Linked DNA regions of Homo sapiens. The protein of the gene in region 1 purifies or fractionates together with the protein of each later gene. This does not show direct contact. Each region holds a gene or a part of one and is shown in the gene's direction. Other genes may lie near its edges.

Region 1 (3,650 bases):
TCTTCAATAGTACTTGCATTGGTTGATTGATTTATCAAATTTTTATTGATGGATTACCGTATGCCAGGCACTACCCTAAGTGCTTGGGGCACTTCAAAGAATAAAACAGATAGAAATTCCTGCCCTCATGCGGTTACATTCTAGCATGGAAAAGCATCACTAGTAAATTATATAGTATGTTACAAAGTGATAAGTGCCAGGGAAAAAGGAGCATTGTAAGTAGGATAAACTTTCCTCTTAGTGCCTTGAACATAGCAGGCACCTTCTGTATAAATAAATGAAGGAATGGATGATTGAACTACATTGATTTGGATGAGGAGACTGAGGAAATAAACCACTTTGTCCTCTTAAGAGTTCCCGTTCTCTTTTGCCTCTCTGCTGCTCCTTTTCCTGCCATTCTTTTTCTTTTGGTGGGGGATTTTAAAAGAGCTGTACCACTTTCTCATCCTTTTTTCTTTTTCTGTTTCTTTGCTTTTCTTGCTGGTGGGGGTTGGGGGAAACCCATGAACTATTGAAACTCTGGACCAAGGAAGTTCTGTGTGTCTAGCATGTAGCTAAAAGGATGCAAGGTAGAGGAAGAAATCCTTTGCTGGGTACAAAATAAGGATATACATAATAAGTCTGTGTTCTGACTCTCCACTTTTCTTTGGGAGATGGTTAAGAACATGGGCTCGGCTGGGCGCGGTGGCTAACGCCTGTAATCCCAGCACTTTGGGAGGCCAAGGCAGGCGGATCACGAGGTCAGGAGATCGAAACCATCCTGGCTAACATGGTGAAACCCCGTCTCTACTAAAAATACAAAAAATTAGCTGGGCGTGGTGGCGGGCGCCTGTAGTCCCAGCTGCTTGGGAGGCTGAGGCAGGATAATGGCGTGAACCCAGGAGGCAGAGCTTGCATTGAGCCGAGATCGCGCCACTGCACTCCAGCCTGGGCAACAGAGCGAGACTCCGTCTCAAAAAAAAAAGAACATGGGCTCTAAGCCAAACTGCTGGGGTTCAAATTGTGTTTAATCCATTATTACTTGTAAGACCTTGGGCAAAGTAATTAACCTCTGTGCTTTGGTTTCCTCTTCTATAAATTGAGAGTAAAATAGTACTTAATGGCATTATTTTAATAATTGAGAGTTCTCATGTAAGGCTTTTAGAGCAGTGCCTGGCACATGGTAAATGCTTAATAAATGTGAATGCTGACAGCTTGCCCTGAGAGGTAGAACGTGAAGGTGGGGAATGCAGCCGTAATGAAGATGGAGGGAAGTGCTCGTGTTTATTAGATGCTTGTTCTTTGACAAGTAGGGTAGGCATTTATATACATTTTCATTTATCCTCAGTAAAATCCTGGGAGGATGTGAAGATCAGAAAGTTAAGAAACTTCCTCACAGATCTGGGATTTGAACTTAAGTATCTCTAACACTAAAGACAAGATTTTTGTTATATCATGCTGAGGAGGGAGATTGGTTGGTATGCAGAATATGTATGCTTCTCTAAAATGGACAGCGGGATGGTTGGACAAGAGACCATTTTGTCATGTATCTCCTCTTTATTATGTGTCAGCAAGCTAATGGATATGATCTAGCATGAAAGTTGATAACCTTAGGGAAGGTTCTGAATTGTATACGTCAGCCAAGGAATATTTCACAGAGGAGTTTTGACTTAGGGAACAGGTTTTTGCTCCAAAAGAATTGGGGGAGGTGGATGGGAAAAGGGAAGATTGTTGATCAAAGGGTATAAAATTGCAGTTAGACAGAAGGAATATACTTTAGTGATCTGTTGCATAGAATGGTGACTATAATAAGTAATAATCGGCTGGATGTGGTGGCCCAGGCCTGTAATCCCAACACTTTAGGGGGCCAAGATGGGAGGATTGCTTGAGGTCAGGAGCTGGAGACCAGCCTGGGTAAGATAGTGAGACCCCATCTTTTAAAAAAAACAACAAACTCAATTAGCCAGGTGTGGTAGTACATGCTTGCAGTCCTAGCTACTTGAGAGGCTGAGGCAGGAGGATTGCTTGAGCCCAGGAGTTTGAGGTTACAGTGAGCTGTGATTGCACCACTACACTCCAGCCTGGGTAACAGAGTGAGACCCTGTCTCTAAAAAGTAATAATAATAAATAAATAATAATGCATTGTATACTTCAAAATTACTAAAAGAGTACATTTTAAATGTTTTCTTTCTTTCTTTCTTTTTTTTTTTTGAGACAATTTCTCTCCCCTCTCCCAGGCTGGAGTGCAGTGGCGTGATCTCGGCTCACCACAACCTCTGCCTCCTGGGTTCAAGTTATTCTTGTGCCTCAGCCTCCCGAGTACTGTGATTACAGGCATGTGCCACCACACCCGGCTAATTTTTGTATTTTTAGTAGAGATGGGGTTTCAGCACGTTGGCCAGGCTGGTCTTGAACTCCCAGCTTCAAGTGATCCGCCCTCCTCAGCCTCCCAAAGTGCTGGGATTACAGGCGTAAGCCACTGCACCCAGCCTTAAATGTTTTCATCACCAAAAAAATGAGAAATATGTGAGGTGATAGATTTGTTAATTAGCTTGATTTAATTATTCTACAATGTGAACATATATTGAGACATCACAGGGTACCCTACATATATATAATATATACAGTTATTATTTGTCAATTAAAAATAAAATAAATATTTTAAGAGAGAATGAGGAAGGCTGCCCTGAGTTGGTATGAATCTTCCCTTGGAGCTTATCAGGATGGAGTGGCTGTTCTTGATGTAGGAGGTGTGGGTTCTGGGACACACAAGCAGGATCAATTCTGTGTCCAGAGCCTCAGAAAAGAAACATACTCTATTGTGGCTCCCAGACCCTTCCATAATTTCACAGCATGGAGAGCTGTGCTTTCTTCATAGGCTTTTTTGAGGTTACTATTGTTTTTGAGGGCTCCCTCAGGAAATTAATTGGTCTGCTTTTCCAACTAGGAAGAAGATTCCCTCCTTAATATCTGCAAGGAGATTGTGGAACGATGGTCAGAAACTCAGAATGTTGTCACCAAAGTGAAAAAAGAAGGTAGAGTCAGAGTTTCTGTGTTTAACTTCCTGAGCCTTTTCCAGCAGCCTTGACTGTATAGCTGTTAGGAAGAGATCTTTTCATTTTCCCCTTGGATGCTCATTTTCCCGAAGATAGTGTACACTGGCAAACACCCAACAGCCTGTGTTACCTTTACTGAACATTGGCTTCCTTTTCTTTTTTTGCATTTTTCCATTTCGACTGACCACAGTTTTCTTCATTGTGGTTTTTTACTTTTTCTTTTTCATCATCTTTCCACTGCTTCTTGTAGATTTGCATTGCAGGTATGGAGTCAACTATATTTTTACCACTTCCTACTTTTTTCATGTTGTCTTTTTTTTTTGAGACAGAGTCTTGCTGTGTCACCCAGGCTGGAGTGCAGTGGCGTAATCTCAGCTCACTGTAACTGCTGCCTCCCAGATTCAAGTGATTCTTGTGCCTCAGCCTCGTGAATAGCTGGGACTACAGGCTCATGTCACCATGCCTGGCTAATTTTTGTGTTTTTAGTAGAGATGGGGATTTCACCATGTTGACCAGGCTGGTCTCGAACTCCTGACCTCATGTGATCTGCCCACCTCAGCCTCCCAAAGTGCTGGGATTACAGGCATGAGCTACAGCACCCTGCCTCATGTTGTC
Region 2 (4,023 bases), on another chromosome or scaffold:
CACTCAGAGGCATCACGGATGCTTGAGATGGAGGTGCTCTGTGACTCGGTTTCCCCATCTGTGAGATGGCAGTGATAACACCCTGCCTGGCAGGGTTGGTGTGAGTCAGCCTGTGAGTGAGGAGGGTCAGAGGTATCACAGTGCTGCTGTTTGTCTTTCCTTGGTGACACCAGGTGGCTGGCTTTGATCTGGACGGGACGCTCATCACCACACGCTCTGGGAAGGTCTTTCCCACTGGCCCCAGTGACTGGAGGTGATAAGAGGCAAAACAAGGGAGTGAGTGAGGCCTGGAGTCCACCTCTGGCCCCGGGTCACCCCTGCCGCTTCATACCTGCCGTAGGATCTTGTACCCAGAGATTCCCCGTAAGCTCCGAGAGCTGGAAGCCGAGGGCTACAAGGTATGTGCAGCCGCCTGTCTGCATGGGCACGTGCACGTGGCGGTCCGACCGCAGTCAGACCAAGGCCCTGGTGAGCAGAGCGTCTGGTGACACCCTTTGCTCCCCAGCTGGTGATCTTCACCAACCAGATGAGCATCGGGCGCGGGAAGCTGCCAGCCGAGGAGTTCAAGGCCAAGGTGGAGGCTGTGGTGGAGAAGCTGGGGGTCCCCTTCCAGGTATGGCTGGAAGGGAGGCTGGGAGCTATGTGGGGGCACAGAGATCCAGAGCGAGGGCTTTAGACTCCAGGGTAAGCGGGGCGGAGGCCTCAGGCAGTGTGATGCTGATAGGAACCCATCATCAGCTACAAATTCTGGGCTGGGGTGGCATCCAGTAGGTGCTTGAGGGGGAGCTAAAGCTGGTGGCCCCCTCCCATCCACAGGTGCTGGTGGCCACGCACGCAGGCTTGTACCGGAAGCCGGTGACGGGCATGTGGGACCATCTGCAGGAGCAGGTGAGTCTTGCAGCCTGCCCGGCCCCCCTCCTTTTCCTCACTCCAGCCCCTCACTCCTGGGCTCCCCGGCCTCCGGTTGGGGCCTCCTTACTCCTCTGTCCTCTCTCGCTCCCTCCTTCTGTTTTTTGCTGTGACATCTTAGATGTTGGTTTACGAGACCAGTGCTTTCAGACTTTCTACATCAGAGTAGTAGGGAAGCTGTTCATTCCTTCGTTCATTCGTTTGTGTGTGCATTTGTTCTGAAGTTTAGCGCATTCTTGAGCTGAAGGTATCAGTGAGCGGGACGGCCTGCTCCAGCAGGGCCCTCACGGCGAGGGCGGTGACTCTAGGCGGATGGGCAGACTGGCGTGTAAAACAGCAGGAGGGAGGGAGCTGGAGAAAGCAGGCATCACCCGTGGTGGGCAGGGATGGCCTCTGAGGAGGTGACATCAGAGGAAAAGGCCTAAGGCAGGGAAAGGAGGGAGCCAGGTGGACACCTGGGGAAAGCGGTCCCCCCCCTTGTGGGAGTGACAGCAAGTGCAAAGGCCCTGAGGCAGTCCCTAGCCTGGGCTAGTTAGGGACAGCGAGGCCCATGCGGCTGGCTCTAAGCGAGGGAGGGGAGAGGGCAGGGCCACAGGGAGGGCCCCGCTTTTGCCCTGAGGGAGGGGGAACCTGGGAGGCGCCGGCACGCCGGAGGCTGGAGCTGTAGCAGGGTGGGTGCCCTCCGGTGGCCGCGTGGGGAACGGGAGGAGGTGAAGTCGGGAGACCTGGAGGGAGGGGGCTGTGTGGAGAGACCACGGAGGGGGGAGGGGGCCAGGAGCACGGTGCAAAGTGGCTGGAGAGTGAGGACATGAAAGGTCGGGGGATGATTCCTGATGTGGGGCACAGACCAGGCGAAGCAGCCCCAGGGACCCGCTACCGCTGCGGGGGGACATTTGTGGGAAGGGCCTCCTCACTACCGTCTCCCGTAGGCCAACGACGGCACGCCCATATCCATCGGGGACAGCATCTTTGTGGGAGGTAAGGGCCTGGAGGCTGCTGAGGGTGGGCTGGGACGCCTCCCTCCGAGCTGGTGGGAACGGGGTGTCCCGTGTGTTCCAGACGCAGCCGGACGCCCGGCCAACTGGGCCCCGGGGCGGAAGAAGAAAGACTTCTCCTGCGCCGATCGCCTGGTGAGGCCCCTGCCCCCTGCCCCGCGCCCGAGCCCGACCCTGGCCTGTGTCTGATGTTCGTCCTCAACCCCTAGTTTGCCCTCAACCTTGGCCTGCCCTTCGCCACGCCTGAGGAGTTCTTTCTCAAGTGGCCAGCAGCCGGCTTCGAGCTCCCAGCCTTTGATCCGGTGAGGCCCTGGGGCGGGGGTGGGGGTGGGGATGGGAGGGCTCCCGGGGATGGGGACGGCATCTCACGCGTGTCCCCCGCCCCTCGCAGAGGACTGTCTCCCGCTCAGGGCCTCTCTGCCTCCCCGAGTCCAGGGCCCTCCTGAGCGCCAGCCCGGAGGTGGTTGTCGCAGTGGGATTCCCTGGGGGTAAGTGTCCTGTTCCTGTGCGCGTGCCCTGAGCCCCGCCTGGGTCCTAGGCCACCCACCGACACTGCCCCCCACACAGCCGGGAAGTCCACCTTTCTCAAGAAGCACCTCGTGTCGGCCGGATATGTCCACGTGAACAGGGTATGACCAGGCTTTTGCCGCCCCAAATCTATTATAAAGTTCCCATCTCCACCTCTCAACTGGTTTGGGGCGGCTTTCCTCCATCATTGCCTCCCCGTCCCCGCTCGGGGTCTTCTCTCCCCCTGGGTCTGCCGATCTGTTTGTGACCTCTCGTGTCCCCAGGACACGCTAGGCTCCTGGCAGCGCTGTGTGACCACGTGTGAGACAGCCCTGAAGCAAGGGAAACGGGTCGCCATCGACAACACAAACCCAGACGCCGCGAGCCGCGCCAGGTAGCGTGACCGCGGGGCCGTAGGTGGCCTGCGGCGGGGTGGGCGGGGCCTGCACATCCAGCTCCTTCCCCCACAGGTACGTCCAGTGTGCCCGAGCCGCGGGCGTCCCCTGCCGCTGCTTCCTCTTCACCGCCACTCTGGAGCAGGCGCGCCACAACAACCGGGTGAGCCCGCTCAGCCCGGACACCCCCCGGGCTGCACCCCCTGACCCCCCTCCTCCCCTGACCCCTGGGCCTGCCGCCCCTCTGATGTTCCCCACAGTTTCGAGAGATGACGGACTCCTCTCATATCCCCGTGTCAGACATGGTCATGTATGGCTACAGGTACTGTTGGGGATAGCAGGGGGCAGGGGCACTGGCTGGGCCACATGATCCAGGCTGTCCCTCACTGTTCCCACCACTGCCAGGAAGCAGTTCGAGGCCCCAACGCTGGCTGAAGGCTTCTCTGCCATCCTGGAGATCCCGTTCCGGCTATGGGTGGAGCCGAGGCTGGGGCGGCTGTACTGCCAGTTCTCCGAGGGCTGAGCCCCGCCCAGCTCCCCTCCACAATAAACGCTGTTTCTCCTTGAGCTTGGCCGGCATTTTGCTGGAAGGAGGGTGGTCCCCACGGGGGAGGGGCTCCAGGCCTGCCAGTTTCTTACATGGAGGAGGCTTTAAGGACATTTTCAGGTAACAAAAGGTGGGGCCCTACCGAGGGGAGTCCAGCTGGGACCTGGCATGAGCACTTTAGACATTAGCCGGGGAACACACAGGGAGGGCGCTGTGTGGCCCCCCGAGAGCCAGCTGGTGAGCCCACGAGCCTCAACCGAGGGGCTGGCTCAAGGCCAGGTGTGACCCCTGAGGACAAAATCCAGCTCAGGTTCTGTGACACTGAACTTGAACCCAAGGCCTGCGGGTCTGGAGATTCGGGGGGGAAGAGGGTGTGGACAGCCGAGAGCCAGACCCAGTGAGTTCCCGGGCTGTCCAGCCTGCTGGGCCACCTTAGAGCTAGGGGGCTGCAAGGCATCGGGCAGTGAGCAGAGAAGGCAGGCAGGTTTTTAAAAGGCTTTATTGGGGAAACGTAGAGGGGTGGGGACCGTCCTTGGAGGCCTCAGGACACCATCCTCCATGTTGCTGGGCAGTTGAAGTCCCCAGGGGCCCCTGCTCAGAAGCGTGTCACCTGGGGGCAGGGGTGCAGTGGGGGCTGCTGGCCACAGGCTCCCAAGCACTGACCCCACAT
Region 3 (2,906 bases), on another chromosome or scaffold:
GTCTTGAACTCCTGGCCTCAAATGATCCACCTGCCTTGGCCCCCCAAAGTACTGGGATTACAGGTGTGAGCCACTGCACCCAGGTTTTTTCCCCCCCATTTTTATAAATGAATTTTTTTATTCATTTTTTGTTTTCGTTTTTGTTTTAAGAGATGGGAGTCTCACCCTCTCTCCCAGTCTGGAGTACAGTGTCAAGATCATAGCTCACTGCGGCCTTGAACTCCTCGGCTCCAGGTATCCTTTTGCCTCAGCCTCCCGAGTAGCTGGGGCTATGGGTGTGCCACCATGCCTGGCTGATTAAAACAATTTTTTAGAGATGAGGGTCTCACTATGTTGCTCAGGCCAATGTTGAACTCCTGACCTCAAGTGATCCACCTGCATCAGCCTCCTGAGTAGCTGGGATTACAGGTATGAGCCACGTGCTTGGGTCATTTTTATAAATTGATATGAAACTTTTATCAATTAAAATTCTGGTAATTTATTTTTATCTCTTAAGTGAAAATGTACCTTGACTTTTTTATTTTTTAACGGTTTAAAACATGTGCAGTAGAAATTCTCTGTTAATACATAAATGGAAATTACATTTTTTTTCATATTGGCGTGTATCTACAAATATTAAAGGACAAGAAAAGGTAATATAATTTTAGGTTTAACAAATATGGTGTATATTCAAATAATACTTGACCAGCTTATCTAAATTGTACATAATATTTGGACTAGCATATGAATTTGATTTTAATTATTATGTTCACAAGCCTGGGATAATTAGATGTTATTTTGCATCTGTAACTGTAATCATTTCTTGTAATTTCTTGTGCAGGTGTATTGTACTTAATAGATTTTACTTTTGGAAATATGACTGTTGAAATTAGCTTAGCTTTTATTTACTGTTTGTAGAGTATTTTCGTTTTGGAGAAGAACACTGTTTTAGTTTAGGACGCTTTTCAAGAGTGAAAGCTTCTGATGATTTTTTTCCCTCATAGGAAGAAATACTGGAAAGAAAATGTTAGTATAATGCAGTTATTGTAACAGCTTATGACTTGATTTTGATTTGGAAACCTATACTGACCAGATATTAAGCTTAAGGATTGTATAAATCATTAAAGCTGTGGTCTTTTCATATGGAGGTTGATAGATAATTTTTTTGTCTTGAGTCTTATTTGGTGACTTTCTATTCATGTAATTCATCATGTGTGAGTGAGGTTGTTGAACAAACTGAACACATGGGCTACAGCAAGTAGTTTTTATTTTTTTTTATTATACTCAAGTTCTAGGGTCCATGTGCACAACAGGCAGGTTTGATACATAGGTATACATGTGCCATGTTGGTTTGCTGCGCCCATCAACTCATCATTTACATTAGGTATTTCTCTTAATGTTGTCCCTCCCCGAGCCCCCCACCCCCCTGACAGGCCCCGGTATGTGATGTTCCCTGCCCTGTGTCCAAGTGATCTCATTGTTTAGTTCCCACCTATGAGTGAGAACATGCAGTGTTTGGTTTTCTGTCCTTGTGATAGTTTATAGCAAGTAGTTTTACAGTACAGATCTTTCCATTACATTTTATTGTTTAAACAAAACAAAATTTGTTTTTCTGTTAGGAATAAGAAAAAAATGGTTTTTACATAGGTTCTTACGGTACGCTTGGAGTACACTTACAGGCCACTGCTGCAGTCTACATTTTATTGTGCTGAATCTGCATTCTATCAGATACCCATGGAAAGACCTCAGTATATGCTTTGCACTCTGCTTTGCTCCCCTTTTCCAATTTCCTATTGCAAATCATTTTGATGTAATACAGAAAAAACAGCATTTAAATATCTACATGAAGAGTTGACCCACTAATGTCAGCCGACCTCTACTTTGTCAGCTCATAGTTAAATCTTTTATCATTTCAAAAATAAAGTGCATTTTCTTTTTCTTTTTCTTCTTTTTTTAGTGATGGAGTCTAACTTTGTCACCCAGGTTGGAGTGCAGTAGCATGATCTCAGCTCACTGCAACCTCCACCTCCTAGGTTCAAGTGATTCTCCTGCCTCAGCCTCCCAAGTAGCTGGGATTACAGGCACCTGCCACCACGCCCAGTTAGTTTTTTGTATTTTTAGTAGTTAGTTTCACCATGTTGGGCAGGCTGTTCTTGAACTCCTGACCTCAAGTGATCCACCTGCCTCGGCCTCCCAAAGTGCTGGGATTACAGGCGTGAGCCGCCGCACCTGGTTGCATTTTCAAAAGAATGAATTTAAGAATAATAAAATTAAAATAGGCCCACTTTTAAATTGTGGTCCATTTTATAATTCAATTTTTATTGTTAACAAAAAAAAAGAGTATAAATCAGATAGTAGCACTCTTCGGCTGAAAATCCTTCAATGGCTTCCCAGTAGATTCAGAATAGAATGCAAACCCTTTGTCACCTTTAAGAGGCTTTATGACCTGGCTCCTGCCTCGTTTCTGCTGCTTGGCTCCAACAATTCAGGCCATACATTTGGGCCATATTACCTTCTTTCTCTTTCTTGGTTGCACTGAGCTTTTCCTCATCTCAGGGCCCCTGCTCTTGGCCTCCTCACTTTCTGAGACACTCTTCCCACAGACCTAGCTTGCTTGGGTGCTGTCTCCGTTCAAATCACTTCCCGGGAGATGCTTTCCCTGAACACTGTTAACTAAAGAGGGCAGCTTCTACCCCTGGGCACTCTATCCCATTTTCCTTGTTTATTTTTTCTTGGCAATGTTAATTCTTTAAGTTTTTTTTTGTTTGTTTATTTGTTTGCTTATTTATTATTTGTCTTTCCTCATTAGCGTACAATTTCTATAAGGGCAGAGGCTTTTCCCATTTTGTTTCTTGCTAAAGTCTCAGTGCCTGGAACAGTGTTTGGCCATAGTACATACTTATTGAGCATTAAATATTCTTAAGTAA

What was found.
Region 2: the proteins of CCDC43 (region 1) and PNKP purify together in Homo sapiens (affinity purification with mass spectrometry; 4 studies listed by BioGRID and IntAct, with this or other methods). This does not show direct contact.
Region 3: the proteins of CCDC43 (region 1) and APTX purify together in Homo sapiens (co-immunoprecipitation; one large-scale study listed by IntAct). This does not show direct contact.

The regions. Positions count from the first base shown.
Region 1 is NC_000017.11:44,683,236-44,686,885, reverse strand, and holds part of CCDC43 (coiled-coil domain-containing protein 43), read left to right. Parts: intron 1-2,926; coding exon 2,927-3,014; intron 3,015-3,650.
Region 2 is NC_000019.10:49,860,554-49,864,576, reverse strand, and holds the end of PNKP (bifunctional polynucleotide phosphatase/kinase), read left to right. Parts: intron 1-173; coding exon 174-253; intron 254-340; coding exon 341-398; intron 399-505; coding exon 506-613; intron 614-816; coding exon 817-888; intron 889-1,838; coding exon 1,839-1,887; intron 1,888-1,968; coding exon 1,969-2,039; intron 2,040-2,113; coding exon 2,114-2,206; intron 2,207-2,295; coding exon 2,296-2,392; intron 2,393-2,471; coding exon 2,472-2,533; intron 2,534-2,695; coding exon 2,696-2,805; intron 2,806-2,881; coding exon 2,882-2,969; intron 2,970-3,066; coding exon 3,067-3,128; intron 3,129-3,211; coding exon 3,212-3,329; 3' UTR 3,330-3,373; downstream 3,374-4,023. UniProt on the Homo sapiens protein: Plays a key role in the repair of DNA damage, functioning as part of both the non-homologous end-joining (NHEJ) and base excision repair (BER) pathways.
Region 3 is NC_000009.12:32,974,728-32,977,633, reverse strand, and holds part of APTX (aprataxin), read left to right. Parts: intron 1-431; exon of another isoform or gene 432-1,245; intron 1,246-2,906. UniProt on the Homo sapiens protein: DNA-binding protein involved in single-strand DNA break repair, double-strand DNA break repair and base excision repair.